Linked DNA regions of Homo sapiens: region 1 is linked to region 2. A link means that fine-mapping ties the variant in region 2 to the expression of a gene that starts in the linked region. Tissue or cell type: breast. Region 2 holds a variant in brackets; the other region holds the start of a gene. All regions are shown on one strand. Distances are from middle to middle.

Region 1 (11,798 bases), 930 kb after region 2:
ATATATGGCCAATCAGTGCATTGGTGCAATGCAAGAGGCAGATTTATGTACAATGAGAAATAGAAAACTAAGGTCCACTTATAGTGCCTTGGCATTTCTAAGTATTTCACCAACATGCCACCTAACAGTTATATAAATTTGACTGATATTTCTTAAACTTTAATGTACACACATATGTCTTGAAGGTCTTGTTCAAAAGCAGATTCTGATAGGTCTGACATGGGACCAAAGAATCTATATTTCAAACAGGCTTCCAGATGACACCAATGCTGCCAGTCCTTGGACCACACTGAGTAGCAAGGAACTGGGAAACATCATCCACCTTCCCAAGTTGGCTGGTGGGTCTGAGTACTCGTGTGAACAGGTATAAAAACCAGGTCTCAGTATGCATTATGATTCTCCTCCTATACAAATCATTTTCTAGAACAGGGTTTGGCAAACATTTTCTCTAAAGTGTCAGTTAGTAATTATTTTAGGCTGTGCAGGCCATTCAGTCACTGTTGCAACTATTCAACTCTGCCATTGTAGTGCAAAAGTGACCTTTGAAAATATGTAAATAAATGGGTATGGCTGTGGTTCCAATAAAACTTTATTTATTTCTGAAAGTAAGCAACGGACCAGATTTGACCCATGGGCCTTAGTTTGCCAGCTCCTGTTCTAGAACAATGGTTTCCAAAAGGTTGTGTACTCAGAGCAGTACCCTCCCATACGTGCATATTTATTTATAAATTCTGTATACATCCTACTGCACTAACACAAAAGTGAAACACAAAAGAGGGAAAATTGACATAGAAAATCATATTTCTTTGTTCATTCAGTTGGAGCATCTTGCTATCCCCTGGGTACGCACACTCACCTTAGTGATAGAATTAGAAACTAGTGATGGAGAGAATTTTGAAATACATTTTTCTTGACAAAAGTGATCACATTTCTAAGAGTAGACCTTGGTGTTTTGATGATTTTTTTGCGTTCCAAGACATAGAACAGCTATAATATGTTAAGAGCTGATAGCAAAGACAAGAAAAACAAGCCTTGAATATAATTGTTTTATGCAATCAATACGGTGACACAGTCACTCTGCACCCTTTGGGGCTTATTTGAGCAGTCCTATGTGCCAGGTGCTAAGCTAGCACTCACAATGTTTTATCTTATTTAATACTCACACAGCCCTCTGAGGTAAGTGATTATTGTTGCTGTTTTATAGCAGAGAGAATGGAGACTCAGTACGTTTCTTATTTAGTTAGTTGGTTAGATGGGGTGTAAACGTCATATCGGCCTATTTAAAAAGCCTTTGTCCTTAATGACTGCTATTTATTGCCTCATCAAATAATAATCATTTTCAAAATTTTACTATTTATTTATTCTGTAATGACATCACACTGATGGAAAAATCCCTCTGGTTATAGTGAATGGGTTTGACATACTTCACCCAAACTGCTTCATCCTACCAAGAAGTTGCCAATGAAGGTAACTAGGCCTCTGTGCTGAGAGAGACTGTCATCTAATTTCAACAATATTGTTGGTTTCTAAGAGATTGCTTACTAGCCATAATGTACTAAGAATTCTCATTCATCTGAATAGTTATGTGCTCAAAACCTTCTTATTACTAAAACTCAGTCAGAGATGACAAGGTGAGCCAACTGCCTAAGACTATTTCTATGTAAGAAGGACCTGATTTGTAAGGCAAATAGCTTTACTTGCTTTGCAAGGTTTTCTACAGATCCAAATCAGCCATAGAGAGCCTATCCATATACCTCATTCAGAAGTGAAAGGTTCAAATACAAACACTGACATTTATGTGACAAGGAAGGCCTTAGAGTTATAAACCATGGTTCCACAGTTTAGGAGAGAAGACTATTAGCACATTTTAAAAACTTTTATTTCAAAATAAATGATGCATCAATGTAAGTGCGTGGCAATTATAACCAGTGCATTGATATTCAGACTGAGGATTCTCTCAATAAAACTTGGCCAGTTAATCATGAACTATAAATCAAGAGTAAGAGAATATGTTCAATGAAGAATATTGGGAATAGGAGTGCAGATAAATCTAAAAACAATGAGACCAGAAAATAGGGTGATGAGATCCATATTTTGAATAAAAAATAAGACATATTGTGACAGATATTTCTGCTTTCAAACATTCTTTTTGTCAGGTTGTCCTGGAAAACTTAGGGCAATGATTTCTGTCACTTCAGACATTACTCCTACTTAAACTGTGGTACATTTCACCATTATTGTTTTTTTTTCTCCTGTGCTGTTTTACTTTCCCAATATTTTACCAGTGTCTTTTGGAGTCATTTTCAAAGTAAATAACCAACCTGCCACCCTTCATTTTATTTAATATGCCTTTTAAATACAAAATTCATACTGTATATGGCCTCCTCATTTATATAATTATCCTACCTCAATTATATTGAGATAGGATTTCTTTTTCAAAATATTTTAGTAGAGTTTATGACCTCAAAAATGCTGTCAAAGATATAAAAGCAGGTTATAAGAGCAGGAAATATTCTTATAGAAAACTGTTATATTAAGAACAAGATGCTCTTAATTAGTAAACACATAATAGTAGATGTTTTTGCATTTTTTGCATAAATCAAACATTTAACTACACTACCTTCATAAAATATTTGAGAGTCAAAAAGTAGCCAATTTTCTGATAAGTTGCATGAAAGTAATTACTTAACAGCAATACAGAAACAGTCACCAGCCACGATTAAATGCTATGCCTTGCTTAATAAATGAAAACATAAGTACATACATAGAGACAAAACTTCTACCCTTAAGATCATTATACTACATGACAATTTTGGTACAAAATTCAGGCTTTTTTTTGTTTTATACTTTTGTTTTCAATGAAATTGTCAGTATTCTTTTGGCCACTTATAAATTCTTTTAATAAGTGAGTGTCTCTAATGTTTATTATTATGATTAAGAAGACAATTACTTCTCTAACTTTAAAAATTTTTTTTATTAATGATCTAACAAAAAAAGATGGATTCAGAAAGAAAACTTCAGTAGAGATCAATGTCTAAATGTCACCTGTGCTATAAGTAGAAAAATACTTTTTGATTGTCCAGCATCCCAAATGTCCTTTTTCTTTTTAGGAGAAATCCCTTATTGTATGTGCTGCTGTGGTAATTCTATGCTCTGTATCTCTGTTTGAATTATCTCAGAAGCAAACTGAGAGACAATAAGTTACTTGCAAGGAGTTTACTTTGAAAATGACTCCAAAAGACACTGGTAAAATGGCAGGAAAGTAAAACAGCAAAGGAGAAAAAAACAACAAATGCTGCATTATCAAGCGAGTCATCACTGTAGGCAACAGGAGCTTAATCCTTATGAGAAACTCTGGGAAACAGCCTATAACACAACTCTCAGGGTTTCCACACCAGAAGGATGAGGAAGCTGGGGAACTTAAACATTAACACTGTGATGGTTAATGTTACATGTCAACTTGACTAGACTATGGTGCCCACATGTTTGGTTAAACACCAGTCTAGATATTGCTGTGCAGGTATATTTTTAGATATGACTAATGTTTAAATCACTAGATTTTGAATACAGCAGATTACCCTCCATAATGTCACTGGGCTTTACCCAGTGAGTTGCTAAGGACTTAAGAGAAATTGACTGCCTGCAGACTGCTTCCAGGCTCAAGCTGAAATGTCAGCTCTATCCTGGATCTCCAGCCTGCCCCACAGATTTCGGATTTGTGAAATCCTGTGAACCAACTTACTAAAATATCTCTTCTCTCTGTCTGTCTCTGTCTTCACATACACACACACACACACACACACACAGCCTTTTGGTTTGGCTTCTCTGGATAGCCCTGACTAATACAAATACCCTTGGTTGAGGGCTCCCTCAGGCTAAGGGGTGCAGGTGCTGACAATAGAAAGTGTGGAGGCTTGCAGTGAAATGAGAGGAGGGAATAGTGGCAGGCCACCAATAGTGGCTGTTATACTTTGCCTACCACTGCTGAAGACCAAAAGGGATGAGCCAAAACAATCAGCGGCTAGGGACAGTGGCTTCCAGGGAGTCAGTGGTGGAGTCTATTTATGCAGGAGTCTTATGTCAATAGCAGTGTCTTGGTCTGACCAGGCCTCTTACAAAGTGATTGGGTCCTTGGACTCCCAGAGCAGCCTCATTCTCACCTATTCCTTAATTTCTATTTGCTAGTTTCCTATCAGTTCTATGAGCTATCAGTTGCCTTCCAATGAATTCCAGTCTTTAAAACTAATGACCAGAAACTATGGTTGTTCATTGCAGTAGGGAACTTTGGTATTTATGCTTTTCTAAAACATTTTGATCATTCATTACTGCTCCTAGCTCATATTTAACGCATTCACTTTCGATTTTTAGAGTCTGAATGTTTTAGCCTAGATTATCTTATTTAGGCATAAATCGTTATGTTTAGTAATTTTTTTGAGATATAGGACAGAAACAGATACTAATGTACATTTTATCAGGAAGTGGCAACACTTTAAACCATGGCAGTAAACATGGCAGTGTGTTCGTTTGTTCACTCAATTACAATTTGTTAAAGCATTACTACAGTAATGAGTATTTGGAATATGACAGCGAATTACACCAAGTCCTTGTCCTTACAAAGTTTAGTTTAGAGTGGAAAAAGATTTAAAAAATGATGAAAACAATAACAACAACAAAAACCACAGCATTCTACCATCAGGGAAGAGAGCATAATTTTAAAGGGTTGAATGAAACATTAATTAAACAAATGAGGTATTTCAGCAGAGATGAATAGCATTTTTTACAGTCTCAATTGAGACACTAGAAATTAAAAAACAAATCAGAGTTTTTTGTAAAAAAAGTTTTTTTCTAGGGCCCATGCACAGACTGTACGTTGCCAAGAGGGCAAACATCAGTAAATTTGAAAATAGTTTGAGAGAAATTATTCAAACTGAAACAAACCCAGGAAAAAAGAACTTTATAAACATGAAAGACGAAGAAACGAAGAGGAAAGGAAGAGGAAAAAGAAAAAGGATACGAAGTGCAAGTATACTTCAGGATCAAACTGCTGAAAATCAAAGATAAAAAGGAAATATTAAAGGTAGCCAGAGAAACGCAACAGGAAGAAAGAAAAGAATTACCATAGAGGGAACGGAGGAGCCAAGATGGCCGAATAAGCTCCGGTCTACAGCTCCCAGCGTGAGCGACGCAGAAGACGGGTGATTTCTGCATTTCCATCTGAGGTACCGGGTTCATCTCACTAGGGAGTGCCAGACAGTGGGCGCAGGTCAGTGGGTGCGCGCACCGTGCGCGAGCTGAAGCAGGGCGAGGCATTGCCTCACTCGGGAAGAGCAAGGGGTCAGGGAGTTCCCTTTCCTAGTCAGAGAAAGGGGTGACAGACAACACCTGGAAAATCAGGCCACTCCCACCCGAATACTGCGCTTTTCCGACTGGCTTAAAAAACGGCGCACCACGAGATTATATCCGGCACCTGGCTCGGAGGGTCCTACAACCACGGAGTCTCGCTGATTGCTAGCACAGCAGTCTGAGATCAAACTGCAAGACAGCAGCGAGGCTGGGGGAGGGGCGCCCGCCATTGCCCAGGCTTGCTTAGGTAAACAAAGCAGCCGGGAAGCTCGAACTGGGTGGAGCCCACCACAGCTCAAGGAGGCCTGCCTGCCTCTGTAGGCTCCACCTCTGGGGGCAGGGCACAGACAAACAAAAAGACAGCAGTAACCTCTGCAGACTTAAATGTCCCTGTCTGACAGCTTTGAAGAGAGCAGTGGTCCTCCCAGCACGCAGCTGGAGATCTGAGAAGGGGCAGACTGCCTCCTCAAGTGGGTGCCTGACCCCTGACCCCCGAGCAGCCTAACTGGGAGGCACCCCCCAACAGGGGCACACTGACACCTCACATGGCAGGGTACTCCCACAGACCCGCAGCTGAGGGTACTGTCTGTTAGAAGGAAAACTAACAAACAGAAAAGACATCCACACCAAAAACCCATCTGTACATCACCATCATCAAAGACCAAAAGTAGATAAAACCACAAAGATGGGGAAAAAACAGAACAGAAAAACTGGAAACTCTAAAAAGCAGAGCACCTCTCCTCCTCCAAAGGAACGCAGTTCCTCACCAGCAATGGAACAAAGCTGGACGGAGAATGACTTTGACGAGCTGAGAGAAGAAGGCTTCAGACGATCAAATTACTCTGAGCTACGGGAGGACATTCAAACCAAAGGCAAAGAAGTTGAAAACTTTGAAAAAAATTTAGAAGAATGTATAACTAGAATAACCAATACAGAGAAGTGCTTAAAGGAGCTGATGGAGCTGAAAACCAAGGCTCGAGAACTACGTGAAGAATGCAGAAGCCTCAGGAGCCGATACGATCAACTGGAAGAAAGGGTATCAGCGATGGGAGATGAAATGAATGAAATGAAGCAAGAAGGGAAGTTTAGAGAAAAAAGAATGAAAAGAAATGAGCAAAGCCTCCAAGAAATATGGGACTATGTGAAAAGACCAAATCTACGTCTGATTGGTGTACCTGAAAGTGATGGGGAGAATGGAACCAAGTTGGAAAACACTCTGCAGGATATTATCCAGGAGAACTTCCCCAATCTAGCAAGGCAGGCCAACGTTCAGATTCAGGAAATACAGAGAACGCCACAAAGATACTCCTCTAGAAGAGCAACTCCAAGACACATAATTGTCAGATTCACCAAAGTTGAAATGAAGGAAAAAATGTTAAGGGCAGCCAGAGAGAAAGGTCGGGTTACCCTCAAAGGGAAGCCCATCAGACTAACAGCGGATCTTTCGCCAGAAACCCTACAAGCCAGAAGAGAGTGGGGGCCGATATTCAACATTCTTAAAGAAAACAATTTTCAACCCAGAATTTCATATCCAGCCAAACTAAGCTTCATAAGAGAAGGAGAAATAAAATACTTTACAGACAAGCAAATGCTGAGAGATTTTGTCACCACCAGGCCTGCCCTAAAAGAGCTCCTGAAGGAAGCGCTAAACATGGAAAGGAACAACCGGTACCAGCTGCTGCAAAATCATGCCAAAATGTAAAGACCATCGAGACTAGGAAGAAACTGCATCAACTAACGAGCAAAATAACCAGCTAACATCATAATGACAGAATCAAATTCACACATAACAATATTAACTTTAAATGTAAATGGACTAAATGCTCCAATTAAAAGACACAGACTGGCAAATTGGATAAAGAGTCAAAACCCATCAGTGTGCTGTATTCAGGAAACCCATCTCACGTGCAGAGACACACATAGGCTCAAAATAAAAGGGTGGAGGAAAATCTACCAAGCAAATGGAAAACAAAAAAAGGCAGGGGTTGCAATCCTAGTCTCTGATAAAACAGACTTTAAACCAACAAAGATCAAAAGAGACAAAGAAGGCCATTACATAATGGTAAAGGGATCAATTCAACAAGAAGAGCTAACTATACTAAATATATATGCACCCAACACAGGAGCACCCAGATTCATAAAGCAAGTCCTGAGTGACCTACAAAGAGACTTAGACTCCCACACATTAATAATGGGAGACTTTAACACCCCACTGTCAACATTAGACAGATCAACGAGACAGAAAGTCAACAAGGATACCCAGGAATTGCACTCAGCCCTGCACCAAGCTGTCCTAATAGACATCTACAGAACTCTCCACCCCAAATCAACAGAATATACATTTTTTTCAGCACCACACCGCACCTATTCCAAAATTGACCACATACTTGGAAGTAAAGCTCTCCTCAGCAAATGTAAAAGAACAGAAATTATAACAAACTATCTCTCAGACCACAGTGCAATCAAACTAGAACTCAGGATTAAGAATCTCACTCAAAACTGCTCAACTACATGGAAACTGAACAACCTGCTCCTGAATGACTACTGGGTACATAACGAAATGAAGGCAGAAATAAATATGTTCTTTGAAACCAATGAGAACAAAGACACAACATACCAGAATCTCTGGGACACATTCAAAGCAGTGTGTAGAGGGAAATTTATAGCACTAAATGCCCACAAGAGAAAGCAGGAAAGATCCAAAATTGACACCCTAACGTCACAATTAAAAGAACTAGAAAAGCAAGAGCAAACACATTCAAAAGCTAGCAGAAGGCAAGAAATAACTAAAATCAGAGCAGAACTGAAGGAAATAGAGATACAAAAAACCCTTCAAAAAATTAATGAATCCAGGAGCTGGTTTTTTGAAAGGATCAACAAAATAGATACACCGCTAGCAAGACTAATAAAGAAAAAAAGAGAGAAGAATCAAATAGACGCAATAAAAAATGATAAAGGGGATATCACCACCGATCCCACAGAAATACAAACTACCATCAGAGAATACTACAAGCACCTCTACGCAAATAAACTAGAAAATCTAGAAGAAATGGATAAATTCCTCGACACATACACTCTCCCAAGACTAAACCAGAAAGAAGTTGAATCTCTGAATAGACCAATAACAGGATCTGAAATTGTGGCAATAATCAATAGCTTACCAACCAAAAAGAGTCCAGGACCAGATGGATTCACAGCTGAATTCTACCAGAAGTACAAGGAGGAACTGGTACCATTCCTTCTGAAACTATTCCAATCAATAGAAAAAGAGGGAATACTCCCTAACTCATTTTATGAGGCCAGCATCATTCTGATACCAAAGCCAGGCAGACACACAACCAAAAAAGAGAATTTTAGACCAATATCCTTGATGAACATTGATGCAAAAATCCTCAGTAAAATACTGGCAAACCGAATCCAGCAGCACATCAAAAAGCTTATCCACCATGATCAAGTGGGCTTCATCCCTGGGATTCAAGGCTGGTTCAATATACACAAATCAATAAATGTAATCCAGCATATAAACAGAGCCAAAGACAAAAATCACATGATTATCTCAATAGATGCAGAAAAGGCCTTTGACAAAATTCAACAACCCTTCATGCTAAAAACTCTCAATAAATTAGGTATTGATGGGACATATTTCAAAATAATAAGAGCTATCTGTGACAAACCCACAGCCAATATCATACTGAATGGGCAAAAACTGGAAGCATTCCCTTTGAAAACTGGCACAAGACAGGGATGCCCTCTCTCACCACTCCTATTCAACATAGTGTTGGAAGTTCTGGCCGGGCAATTAGGCAGGAGAAGGAAATAAAGGGTATTCAATTAGGAAAAGAGGAAGTCAAATTGTCCCTGTTTGCAGGCGACATGATTGTATATCTAGAAAACCCCATTGTCTCAGCCCAAAATCTCCTTAAGCTGATAAGCAACTTCAGCAAAGTCTCAGGATACAAAATCAATGTACAAAAATCACAAGTATTCTTATACACCAATAACAGACAAACAGAGAGCCAAATCATGAGTGAACTCCCATTCACAATTGCTTCAAAGAGAATAAAATACCTAGGAATCCAACTTACAAGGGATGTAAAGGACCTCTTCAAGGAGAACTACAAACCACTGCTCAACAAAATAAAAGAGGATACAAACAAATGGAAGAACATTCCATGCTCATGGGTAGGAAGAATCAATATCGTGAAAATGGCCATACTGCCCAAGGTAATTTACATATTCAATGCCATCCCCATCAAGCTACCAATGACTTTCTTCACACAATTGGAAAAAACTACTTTAAAGTTCATATGGAACCAAAAAAGAGCCCGCATCGCCAAGTCAATCCTAAGCCAAAAGAACAAAGCTGGAGGCATCACACTACCTGACTTCAAACTATACTACAAGGCTACAGTAACCAAAACAGCATGGTACTGGTACCAAAACAGAGATATAGATCAATGGAACAGAACAGAGCCCTCAGAAATAACGCCGCATATCTACAACTATCTGATCTTTCACAAACCTGACAAAAACAAGCAATAGGGAAAGGATGCCCTATTTAATAAATGGTGCTGGGAAAATTGGCTACCCATATGTAGAAAGCTGAAACTGGATCCCTTCCTTACACCTTATATAAAAATCAATTCAAGATGGATTAAAGACTTAAATGTTAGACCTAAAACCATAAAAACCCTAGAAGAAAACCTAGGCATTACCATTCAGGACATAGGCATGGGCAAGGACTTCGTGTCTAAAACACCAAAAGCAATGGCAACAGAAGACAAAATTGACAAATGGGATCTAATTAAACTAAAGAGCTTCTGCACAGCAAAAGAAACTACCATCAGAGTGAACAGGCAACCTACAAAATGGGAGAAAACTTTCACAACCTACTCATCTGACAAAGGGCTAATATCCAGAAACTACAATGAACTCAAACAAATTTACAAGAAAAAAACAAACAACCCCATCAAAGAGTGGGCGAAGGACATGAACAGACACTTCTCAAAAGAAGACATTTATGCAGCCAAAAAACACATGAAAAAATGCTCATCATCACTGGCCATCAGAGAAATGCAAATCAAAACCACAATGAGATACCATCTCACACCAGTTAGAATGGCAATCATTAAAAAGTCAGGAAACAACAGGTGCTGGAGAGGAGGTGGAGAAATAGGAACACTTTTACACTGTTGGTGGGACTGTAAACTAGTTCAACCATTGTGGAAGTCAGTGTGGTGATTCCTCAGGGATCTAGAACTAGAAATACCATTTGACCCAGCCATCCCATTACTGGGTATATACCCAAAGGACTATAAATCATGCTGCTGTAAAGACACATGCACATGTATGTTTATTGCGGCATTATTCACAATAGCAAAGACTTGGAACCAACCCAAATGTCCAACAATGATAGACTGGATTAAGAAAATGTGGCACATATACACCATGGAATACTATGCAGCCATAAAAAATGATGAGTTCATGTCCTTTGTAGGGACATGGATGAAATTGGAAATCATCATTCTCAGTAAACTATCGCAAGAACAAAAAACCAAACACCGCATGTTCTCACTCATAGGTGAGAATTGAACAATGAGATCACATGGACACAGGAAGGGGAACATCACACTCTGGGGACTGTTGTGGGGGAGGGGGGAAGGATAGCATTGGGAGATATACCTAATGCTAGATGACAAGTTAATGGGTGCAGTGCACCAGCATTGCACATGTATACATATGTAACTAACCCGCACAATGTGCACATGTACCCTAAAACTTAAAGTATAATAATAAAAGAAAAAAAAATTAAAAAAAGAATCACCATAGACTTCATATTGTAAATTATGCAAGCTGAAAGACAATGCGTAGATGTCTAAAATAAACAAAAACTTTCAACCCAGAATGTTATACCCAGCAATAACATCTTTCGACTATGAAGGTGAAATAAAGACTTTTTCAGCAAACAAAAGCTAAGATAAATCAGTTCTGGCAACCTGAATTATAAGAAATGTTAAGCAATGTTTTTCAGACAGAAGGAATATGATACCTCATACAAATATGAATCTAAACAAAGAAAGGAAGAGTGCTGAAAATGATTGAAAATGAGGGCAAATAATAAAGAAATATTTTCTTACTTTTAATCCCTTTATACAATAATTTATTATCTAAGGCAAAAATAATAACCATGTATTATGGTATTTAGAACATACATAGGCATTAAGAATAAAATGTGTAGTAAAAAATTGAACAGATGCTAGGAGGTTAAACCTGGAAGTACTCAATTAGGAGACTCTCAGACTATACTTGAGATTCTATAATACTTTTGAAGGTAAGAAGTAATATATTAAAGATATAAATTGTAAAACTTAGAGCAACCACTAAAAAGATAAATATTCCATTAATCCAAAAGAAGGCAAAAAAGACTTTGAGAGGAAAAAAAGAATATATAGGAC
Region 2 (11,798 bases):
GTCGCCCAGGCTGGAGTGCAATGGCATAATCTTGGCTCACGGCAACCTCCACCTCACATGTTCAAGCGATTTTCCTGCCTCAGCCTCCTGAGTAGCTGGAATCACAGGCGCCAGCCACCATGCCTGGCTAATTTTTGTATTTTTAGCAGAGATGGGGTTTCACCATGTTGATCAGGCTGGTCTCAAACTTCTGACCTCAGGTGATCCACCTGCCTCGGCCTCCCAAGGTGCTGGGATTACAGGTGTGGGCCACTGCGCCGTGCAGACTTTTGTGTTTTAACAGTGATTTGTGGGCATGAGGGTGAGGGAATGTGTGCTATTGACCTTTTTTCTTTTCTTTTTTCCTTTTATGAGACAGAGTCTTGCTCCATCGCCCAGGCTGGAGTGCAGTGGTGTGATCTCAGCTCACTACAACCTCCACCTCCCAGGTTCAAGCAATTCTCCTGCTTCAGCCTCCCAAGTAGCTGGGACTACGGGCGCACACCAACATGCCTGGCTAATTTTTTAAAAAGTATTTTCATATTTATTTTTATTTATTATAGTTTTTTTTTTTGAGACTCTGTCACCCAGGCTGGAGTGCAATGGTGCAATGGTGCGATCTCGGCTCAGTGCAACCTCCACCTCCCAGGTTCAAGTGATTCTCCTGCCTCAGCCTCCCTAGTAGCTGGGATTACACGCCTGTGCCACCACACCTGGCTAATTTTTGTATTTTTAGGAGAGACGGGTTGGTTTCACAGTGTTGGCCAGGCTGGTCTTGAACTCCTGACCTCAGGTGATCCACCCACCTTGGCCTCCCAAAGTGCTGGGATTACAGGCATGAGCCACCACGCCCAGCCTGCCATTGATTTAGTTCAGTGTCCTGCACAACAACAACAACAAAAATGCTTCTGTCTCTTCATATGAGTAGCACACTTACTGAGAAACACCAGATACAAGAGAGAATCTAATGTTTTAGTGAGTAGTAAAAGGATATTCAACTGGATCTGGGGAAGATCTCTTTTCTTTTTAGGGTTCTGCTCTTTAGGACATAAAGCCAAGACAAAGAGCTTTGGTTTGTATACCATTTTAGGATTAAGCTCAGCTGTCTCATCACCACAAGAAGCCAAAAATGATAGTGACTTAAGCCCGCAAAGTTTTATCTTCTCACAGAGTAAGTCTTTAGTGGGCAGTCTTGGGATGAAAGGGCAGGTCTGAAAGTCCACAGGGACTCAGGTTCCACTGCTCCATGGCTCCAGATACGGCCCTCATCCTTGTAATCCAAGACGGCTGGTGAGGCCGAAGCTGTCACTTCTATATTCCATTCAGCAGAAAGGAAAAAGAGCTTCTTCCCTTCCTTTAAGGCCACCTCTCAGAAGTTGCATATGACATTTCTGATTACTTTCCTTCTCCAGAACTTAGTCACATGTCCACATTTAGCTGCAAGGCATCTGGGAAATAGAGTCTCATATTGTGGGAAGCAATGTGCCCAGATAAAAACTTCCTAAGTAAGAAAGGAAGAAGAGATGTTTTGTGACAGCTACCATTCTCTGCCATTCTTAGTGAGGCAGGTTAATGGCAAGTGAAGCCCTAGTATCTTTTTTTTTTTTTTTGAGATGGAGTTCAGCTCTTGTTGCCCAGGCTGGTGTGCAATGGTGCAATCTCGGCTCAGTGCAACCTTTGCCTCCCAGGTTCAAGTGATTCTCCTGCCTCAGCCTCGCAAGTAGCTGGGATTACAGGTGCCCACCACCATGCCCGGTTAATTTTTTTTTTGTATTTTTAGTAGAGATGGGGTTTTACCATGTTGGCCAGGCTGGTCTCGAACTCCTGACCTCAGGTGATCCACCCACCCCAGCCTCCCAAGGTGCTGGAATTACAGGCGTGAGCCACCACACCTGGCCCCTAGTATCTTAGTAAAGCTGGAGTTTCAATGGTCCAGACTTCACTAAGGAGGGCAAGGGGAAAGTTGTGACTTGCTTTGGCCCCAAAACTCTTGGACACTCCTTCCATTGAGACTGGAGTCTGTGTCTCTTCCCCATGAATCTGGGTGGGAGCTTATGACTACTCCAATAGATGGACTACGGCAGATCTGAGGCCGAGGCTGGGTCACGAATCTGGGTGAGGGCTTATGACTACTCCAACAGATGAACTACAACAGATCTGAGGCCGAGGCTGGGTCATAAAAGGTAGCACAGCCTCCTCCTGGCTATCTCTTGGGAGGTTCCTGTTGCTGTGAGGAGACACCATGCTGTAAGGGAGCCCAGGCCACATGCAGAGGCCACGTGTAGTCGTCTGTCCACGAACCACAACTGTGGTCTCAGCCAACAGCTAGCATCACCTGCCAGACACGGAGACCTGTCAGCTCTGGAGTCACCACCCCCTGCCACTGAGTTTTCCATCTGACTGCAACTGCAGCAGATACCCTGAGCCAGAAGGGCCTGCTGCACTAGTCAGCACTCAGAACCAGAGGGAGGATAAGAAAATGACTGTTGTTTGAAGCCACTGGATATTGTGATGGTTTGTTATGCAGCAATGGATAACCAGAGCAGCCAGCAGGGCATTGATACTTTGGTAATTAGTTTTCGAGCACATTCCTGAGGGCAGTGAGTGGAAATCAGTCAGAAGGAGAGACGTCAGGGACACAGTGAATCAGGGGCCAAGGGGGAGGATGGAGATTGTGGGGGGCAGGAGGAGGTTGCATGGAAAGAGATGTAGCTATTTTCTTTGCCAAGGGCATCTTCCACCACCCACCTTGTTTTTCACATCGAATTTCTAAAAGAAACCACACTATGAGAACAAAAAAAATGGGGGGAATCAGGGAGCCAAAGCAAAGCGGGGAAAAAAAAGTTGTGTTAGGCCAGGCGCAGTGGCTCACGCCTGTAATCCCAGCATTTTGGGAGGCTGAGGCAGGCAGATCACCTGAGGTCAGGAGTTCGAGACCAGCCTGACCAACATGGAGAAACCCTGTCTCTACTAAAAATACGCACCAAGCATATGGTGGTGCATGCCTGTAATCTCAGCTAGTTGGGAGGCTGAGACAGAATCGCTTGAACCCAGGAGGCAGAGGTTGCAGTGAGCCGAGACCGTGCCATTGCACTCCAGCCTGGGCTACAAGAGTGAAACTTCATGTCAAAAAAAAAAAGTTGTGTTCGATGTGTCAAGGGTTTATGACTGGAAATAGAGAAAGGCAAGCATCCAAAAGTCTAAATTATATGCACTCCCGTCTTGCATTTTCATTCTAGGCAAAATCATAAAGGAGGAAACTCTGGTCTTTACATTAGGGCGCCTCTACTTCTGGTTTTGCCCCTGTCTACCACCTCAGCCTTCTGGAGACTCAGTTTCTGCCTTTGGAGGCATAGACACCACCATCACCAACCACCACCGCCACCACCACCACGGGTTTGTTAGCTAATGATTATGCAGCATTGATCTGTAAGCCTGAAGATGCAAACCCCTGACTTCAGTTATTTAGACACCCAGACCCTGGGTGTTTACAGTGGTGTAGGATGAGAGACAGTGACTTGCATGTGTACAGAGAATGCTGCTGCTTTCTTTTATGGAATAGAGCCCATCTTCCTCTTGAGTTTCCATGGAGAAATGGTGTGGAGTTGGGAAGAGAACCATAAAGTAGCCAGTTAATGCTGACTTCAGTCTCTTTTGGACAAATGCTCAGTTTTTCTGATTTCTTCCTTGATCCTCTGCTCTTTCTAGGAGAGTCTAGTGGAGACTAAAGTGATACCGTATTATAGGGAAGAATTTAACCTTGGATTCACCAGGCTGCCGGAAGGATTCATTCCTTCCTAACATGTTGCTTCCTTCCACTAAAGTGTCTTCGACTTCAGTCTTGAAAAGAGTTTTACCCTCCCATGTCACAGAATCCTAATGTTGCCACCCTAGGTATCACCTCACCCAACACTTTCTTTAAAAATTTTTTTATTATTATCTAATATGCTTTTTCATTGCCAGCCAGCATATTTATTTTTATTTTTTTATTTATTTTTTTGCCCCTGGCCTACCTTCCCAACCATGCAATGTAACAATCTAAACCAGATGATCTCAAGCTTTTAGTCTCAGGACCAACATTTTAAAATGAACACACTTAAAAATTATTGATGAGCCCAAAGAGTTTTTGATCATGTGAATCTATCAATATTTTAGGAATTAAAACTGAGGCCGGGTGCGGTGGCTCATGCCTGTAGTCCTAGCACTTTGGGAGGCTGAGGTGGGCGGATCACCTGAAGTTAAGAGTTCGAGACCAGCCTGGCCAACATGTTGAAACCCCATCTCTACTAAAAATACAAAAATTAACTGGGCATGGTGGCGCACACCTGTAATCCCAGCTGCTCAGGAGGCTGGGGCAGGAGAATCGCTTGAACCTAGGAGGAAGAGATTGCAGTGAGCCAAGATTGCACCACTGCACTCCAGCCTGAGCAACAGAGAGAGACACCATCTCAAAAACAAAACAAAACAAAACAAAAACAAAAACAAAAACAAAAACAAAAAAACTGAGAAAAATTTAAAATATTAATTTATTTAAAAGAGATACATCCATTACATGTTAACATAAATAATGTAATGCAACCCACAATGTGTGCAGGGATCATCTAGCCCTCTTTGCATTACCCTGCCAGAAATGGGGCTCAGAGAACGAGCACAAATGCTGATATTCTGGATACTGCTGTTGCTGTAGCAAACAGTCTTTTACGTCTGACCCAGGAGTCTCATGTCTTCTATCAGCATCCCTGAAACTGTCTCATGCTAATTTGTTACCCTTCCTGGTAGGGTAAAATCTCAGACGCTTCACAGTTCTTGATATAACACCTAACTGAAATTTAGCATTTCCTTCCATTTTAACGTAGGCAGCTGACCTTTTTCACAGTACTCATAACTTTGCAACCAATAGAAAACACAGGTATTTTCATAGCACTTTAGATTTGTGGCACATGTTTCAAAATAACACTTATGCATGTCAACAATTTGAAATAAAAAACTTAACCTTATTAATAATGTGTTAATAAAGAAGCACATATATTACGATATCACACATTTTTTTTTAATATATTGGCAATTTGTCTTTTAATATGACTGGTTTCCTTTTTATTTTTATGCATTTAAAATGAAGGGGCCTATAGACTCCACCAGCCTGCAAAAAGTAGCTTCAAATAAGCCCCTGATCTAGGCAGTCTGTGTGCATTGCATAAGGGCATGGATAGCACAGGGGAAAAACAGAAAGAAAAACAGGTTCAT[T/G]TATTGGTCTTTGAATTTTAAAAGCCGCAGTGCCAGAGGCGTGAGGGGGAAATGGAGGGATGCATACAGTTAGAAAAAGATTTGGAAGAAATAGGAACACTTTTACACTGTTGGTGGGACTGTAAACTAGTTCAACCATTGTGGAAGTCAGTGTGGCGATTCCTCAAGGATCTGGAACTAGAAATACCATTTGAACCAGCCATCCCATTACTGGGTATATACCCAAAGGATTATAAATCATGCTGCTATAAAGACAAATGCACATGTATGTTTATTGCGGCACTATTCACAATAGCAAAGACTTGGAACCAACCTAAATGTCCCTCAATGATAGACTGGATTAAGAAAATGTGGCACATATACACCATGGAATACTATGCAGCCATAAAAAAGGATGAGTTCGTGTCCTTTGTAGGGATATGAATGAAGCTGGAAATCATCATTCTCAGCAAACTATTGCAAGGACACAAAACCAAACACCGCAGGTTCTCACTCATAGGTGGGAATTGAACAATGAGAACACCTGGACACAGGAAGGGGAACACACCAGGGCCTGTTGTGGGGTGGGGGGAGCGGGGAGGGATAGCATTAGGAGATATACCTAATGTAAATGACGAGTTAACGGGTGCAGCACACCAACATGGCACATATATACATATGTAACAAACCTGCACCTTGTGCACATGTACCCTAAAACTTAAAGTATAAAAAAAAAAGATTTGGAAGAAATGCCTTGAAAGAATTCTAATCAAGACCAGCCAGCGGGAAAATCGAGACCACTCCCACCCCCCTACAAAACATTAGCTGGGCTTGGTGGCACACACCTGTAGTCTCAGCTGCTCCGGAGACTGGGGTGGGAGGATCCCTCGAGCCCGGCGTTGGAGGCTGCAGTGACTCTAGAAAGGATTCCCTGGGTTAGGGAGAGGACTGGACACAGGTCTTGTCAAGGCCTCCTCAGGGCCTGCGGCCCACCTTGTCACCATCTGAGTGGCCCCTGTGCTCGCCAAAACCACAGAACCTCTGTTTTCCCTCTCAGTATGGGTTACTTCCCTCTGCAGCCAAAAGGCCCCATGCACTGCGAAGGAGGATCATGCCAGTATCAGCCACCAAATTGTGTTTGGTCTCAAACAGCTCACTTCTCCCCGCTTTCCACAACCCCGGGTGCAGGGTGCTCTAAGCCCTTAGAGGGGTGATGATTGCCGAATAGAGGGTCCTCCCGACCTGTATACTGAGTCACTGCCATTTTGGGTGGGATTAGACAGAACCATCTCTAGATTTTCCTCCGCAATGAAAGAAAAACTCACTTCTGTCACACATAGGAGAGGAAAGTGATCTGGAGGCACGCAGTAATTTGATCAAGGGATACCATTCTCTATTTTTAATATCTATGAGCTCAGAAAGGGTTGCTCCTTTAGTGGCCTGAGGAAGCTGCCATCTGAGTCGTAGTGTGTGGGAGCTGCGCTGCCAGCCCCTCCGTGCTGCAGATTTCAGCGGCGTGCTCTCGTTGCTATGGTAATGAGCCGGGGAAGATTTTCAGGCTACCCAGGAAGAGCAGCCTTCTTACAAGAAAGGATCCATCAGGGATGCAGTTTGAAATTTGGGAACAGTCAGAGAAGAGGGACATGGAGTTTGAATTAAGGATGGAAAGAACACAAGAGTGGAGCCAGCCTAACCCGTGGAGGAGCTGGGGGGAGCAGAGGGGACAGTTTTGGGAGGCTGGGCCTGGTGGATCCTACCCTCACTGCCTTCCTGAAGAATGTCTGATGTTGCATCATTAATGTTTTATCTCTTTGAGTGTTTATGTAGTCCTCTCCCTAATATAGATATGTGTATTTGTAAGCAAACCTCTAGAGATAGAAAAAATATCAAGGTACTAATACTTTCTTTTTGGAGATGGAGTCTTGCTCTGTCACCTAGGGTGAAGTGCAGTGGTGCGATCTCAGCTTACTGCAACCTCCGCCTCCTGGGTTCGAGTGATTCTCCTGCCTCAGCCTCCCGAGTAGCTAGGATCACAGGTGCACGCCACCAAGCCCGGCTGATTTTTGTGATTTTAGTAGAGACGGGGTTCACCATGTTGGCCAGGCTGGTCTTAAACTGCTGGCCTCAACTGATCCACCTGCCTCGGCCTCCCAAAGTGCTGGGATTACAGGCGTGAGCCACAAGGTACCAATACTTATGATAATTAAAAAAAAAATTAAAGACCCTTTTTTTCCTCCATCAAAGTAGAGCATTGTTCACATATGGACAGCACGGCTGGCAAGGGGCCAAGGGAATTATGTGGGGTAAAGAAGGAAGAGGAGGGAGGGATGAGGGGAGGTAGGAAGGGGCTGATGAAGATGGACTGCTGCCAGGCAGAGTCCCAAGACCGTCTCTGTCCCTTTGAGGCCGTTCTCAGATGAGAAAACTCAAAAGGCAAGACCTTCAGTGATTGAGACCTCCTGAAGGACAGCTCCCAAAATGAGCATTTCCAAGGCCCCAGGTTAACATGATTCACTTCTCCTGCAGGTTAGGAACAGCCTGTTTTCTTTCAAGCCTGTCCTCATGCTTGAAGACATCAACACAGCTCAAATTAGGTATTTCTCCTGAAGATTCTTATCCACCAAGACCTCAAATTATGAAATCGGGCCCTAGTTAAATGAGGCGACTGTAATTCTAAGAGGCCATTGTAGCAGCGAAACAGCAAAAGAACTAACAGAACTCACTCCATTTTTGTTTATGGGGCCTTTACCCATTCTTGCATGTAGGCTAGGATAATTTTAGAGCACTGAGATAATATGTAAAAATAGCAATTGCAGGGTGGGTGCGGTGGCTCACGCCTGCAATCCTAGCAATTTGGGAAGCTGAGGCAGGTGGATTACCTGAGCTCAGGAGTTCAAGACCAGCCTGGGCAACACAGTAAAACCCCGTCTCTACTAAAATACAAAAAATTAGGCCAGGCGCGGTGGCTCACACCTGTAATCCCAGCACTTCAGGAGGCCGAGGCGGGTGGATCACTAGGTCAGGAGATTGAGACCATCCTGGCTTACACGGTGAAACCACGTCTCTACTGAAAATACAAAAAATTAGCCGGGCGTGGTGGCACGTGCCTGTAGTCCCAGCTACTCGGCAGGCTGAGGCAGGAGAATGGTGTGAGCCCTGGAGGCGGAGCTTGCAGTGAGCCAAGACCGCTCCACTGCACTCCAGCCTGGGCGACAGAGCAAGACTCCGTCTCAAAAAAAAAAAAAAAGAATTAGCTGGACATGGCAGCGTGCACCTGTAATCACAGCTACTCGAGAGGCTGAGGCAGGAGAATTGCTTGAACCCCCAGGAGGCAGAGGTTACAGTGAGATGAGATAGTACCACTGCACTCCAGCCTGGGCAACAGAGCAACACTCCATGTCAGAAAAAAAAGAGAGAAAGAGAGAAAGAGAGAGACAGAGAGGGAGGGAGGGAGAGAGGGAGGGAGGGGCGGAGGGAAGGAAAATAGATAAATGTATTTGTAGAAATCATTTAGAAAAATGGGAGTTTGAAGCCTATTCCACAGGTTCCTTGTTTATCCCAAGAGTTTGGTTTTAACCAGCCTTACCATTTTTACAATTTGCATTATTATCATTTAGAGATAAGTAATCATTGAAATGTTGTTTTCCAACTAGTTAAGGAAATCTTGTAATTCTTTATCTGGATTAGCTATAGTGATAACCAACGAAGCCAAAAACTAAAAGGTAAGAAAGAAACAGACAAGGAAGAAAGGAAAAATGAGGTCAAAATCAAGGTTCATATCCCCATAATCCCTTTCTTAATCATCAATGACAAAATAAGTTAAAAAATTAGACAAGGAAGTCTATCAATGGCAGCAGCGGCGTCTCTTCCATCCCTCTCTAGTTCTCAGCCCAGTGCCTGTGTAGTTTGCTGTCACATCCTGGAAGGGTTGGATAAATGATGAAAGCATAGCCATGTCTACATCCAGGGGCACTGCACGTAATAAGAAACTAAAGGCTCAAACTGAAGGAATGAAGATCTAACTTGGAATTTGGGGGGCATCCTGGGGGAAGAAGTGTGGAGGTAAGAGCCTCGTGATGAGTAGAAACCTACAGACTAGGTGGTTCCATCCAGATTAAGAGGAGACCACAGGCCTCCTGCGTAGACCCCTCTGAGTGGGCTTCCTGTTTTACAATGTACCCAAGATTTTCTTTATATTCAGGTATAGTGAGACCAACAGTTCAGGGGATGACTGCTATTGAAAGACAGTTTGTGACTCTTGGTTCTCGCAGAAGGCGGCAGGCCAGGCACTGCAGGGCCTCATGGGAAACAACAGGATTGGTCAGGAGACAGAGGGAGCAAGGGGAAAACCTGGGCAATAGTCTTTAGCGTGGTTTCCACAGAAAAGTCAATGCAAGGCACGGTAAGCACATTTAGGATTGTCTAGTTTGAGTACAGTGAGCTCTGGGTCCCAGGGGTTGTCCCTGGTTGCCTGGCACCTGGCTCTGGGGTGATTAGGGTAGGTGGATAGTGACCTAGAGTGTGAGAGCCAGATAGAGAAGGTTGTGGGGGTGTCGGTGGGTAACTGGCTTTGGATTGGTTGGTTTGCATACGAAAGGCACACTTTCATATGCAATACACAATTTCATATGCAATACACACTTTCATATGCAATACACACTTTCAATATGCAGTACACACTTTTGTACGCAGTGGCTCATGCCTGTATTTCCAGCACTTTGGGAGGCCAAGGCGGGCGGATCACGAGGTCAGGAGATCGAGACCATCCTGGCTAACACGATGAAACCCTGTCTGTACTAAAAATACAAAAGATTAGCTGGGTGTGGTGGCATGCACCTGTAGTCCCAGCTACTCGGGAGGCTGAGGCAGGAGAATCGCTTGAATCCAGAAGGCTGAGGTTGCAGTGAGCCGAGACCGCGCCATTGCACTCCAGCCTGGGTGACAGAGCAAGACTCTGTCTCAAAAAAAAAAAAAAAAAAAAAGACGAAGAAAGGCACACTCAGATCAAAAGGGAGTCATGTGCTATCTCTAGCAATCCAATCCTGAGAGGGTTGGACTCTACCTAGTCAGTAGTCTGGCCCCCAAATGCCAGAGCATCACAAGTACAGAAAATAAGGCTGGACGCAGTGGCTCATGCCTGTAATCCCAGCATTTTGGGAGGCCAAGGCAGGAGGAATGCTTGAACCCAGGAGTTGGAGACCAGCCTGGGCAACATGGCAAAACCTCATCTCTACAAAAAATACAAAAATGTGCCTGTAGGCCAGCTACTCAGGAGGCTGAGGTGGGAGGGTCGCTTGAGCCCAGGGAAGTTGAGGCTGCAGTGAACCATGTCATTGTACTCCAGCCTGGGCGACAGAGTGAGACCTTGTCTCAAAAACAAAAAACAAGGAAAAAAAAAAGAATACAGAGAATGAGAAGAAATGGTTAATAAACACACCAGCAGTCACTGTGTGCTCTGTGTTGTCCTGTGTGCCTCCTAAGCACATGCTGTTGAAATCTCCCAGCTCATTTCCTTCGACAATTTCAATAGTGCCTGTACCTGTTGTAGATTTTGAGCTAAAATTAGGTTTGTAGTCATCCAATTTGAGAATAACATGTCTTCAGTGGGAAATTTGAAACAATGCTCTGGAAACCAAAAAATTCTACTTATCGAAATTTAAGTCATATAATGTGAAGCCTAGCCTGGGAACTAAAGCTTGCTTTGTGACTTACTCTTTTTGTTTATAAAACACAACCAAGAACAGTTTTCATTTTCAATGCAATGTTGCATTTTTAAAAATGACAGATCATGTTCTTAGAATTAAAAGGTCACTTAATCATGCTTCATCTTTTTTTTTTCTTTGAGACAGAGTCACTGTGTCGCCCAGGCTGGAGTGCAGTGGTGCGATCTCGGTTCACTGTAACCCCTGCCTCCCGGGTTCAAGCGATTCTCCTACCTCAGCCTCCTGAGTAGCTGGGATTATAGGTGCACACCACCATGCCTGGCTAATTTTTTGTATTTTTAGTAGAGACGGCATTTCGCCATGTTGACCAGGCTGGTCTCAAACTCCTGACCTCAAGTGATCTGCTGACCTCGTCCTCCCAAAGTGCTGGGATTACAGGCGTGACCACCGTGCCCAGCCCATGCTTTATCTTTTAATAAATTGTTTATTAATATGTACTTCCATTAGTTTACTAGAGCTGCCATAACAAAGTACTACAGACTGGGTGACTTAAACAACAGAAATTTATTTTCCCAGAGTTCTGGAAGCTGGAAGTCTACGATCAAGGTGTAAGCAGGGTTGGTTTATCCTGAGGCCTCTCCTTGGCTTGGAGATGGCTGTCTTCTCCCTGTGTGTCCACATGCTTTCCCTCTGTGCATGTCTGTGTCCAGATTTCCCCGGCTTATATCATATTTGATAAGCACCCGCTCATATGACCTCATTTTACCATAACCACCTCTTTAAAATCCCCACCTCCAAATACAGTCACATTCTGAGGTACAGGGGGTAAGGACTTCAACATATAAATTTTGAAGAGACACAAGTCGGTCCATAGTATAATATTTACATAAAATATAGGATGTTGGGTTGGGTGCGGTGGCTCACGCCTGTAAT

What was found. PIP is the estimated chance that this variant, and not a neighbour inherited with it, causes the effect.
Region 1: it holds the start of LINC02893, and the variant in region 2 is fine-mapped to the expression of LINC02893 in breast (GTEx, PIP 0.95).

What each region holds. Positions count from the first base shown.
Region 1 is chr9:87,036,754-87,048,551 of GRCh38, forward strand. It overlaps LINC02893 (long intergenic non-protein coding RNA 2893), which reads right to left and starts at 5,373. Exons shown (of 2, transcript NR_027471.1): 1 at 5,118-5,373.
Region 2 is chr9:86,109,946-86,121,743 of GRCh38, forward strand. No RefSeq gene overlaps it. Among named protein-coding and RNA genes, the nearest start is that of GOLM1, 16 kb to the left of the region's middle. The variant T/G (reference allele first, on the strand shown) is at 5,224.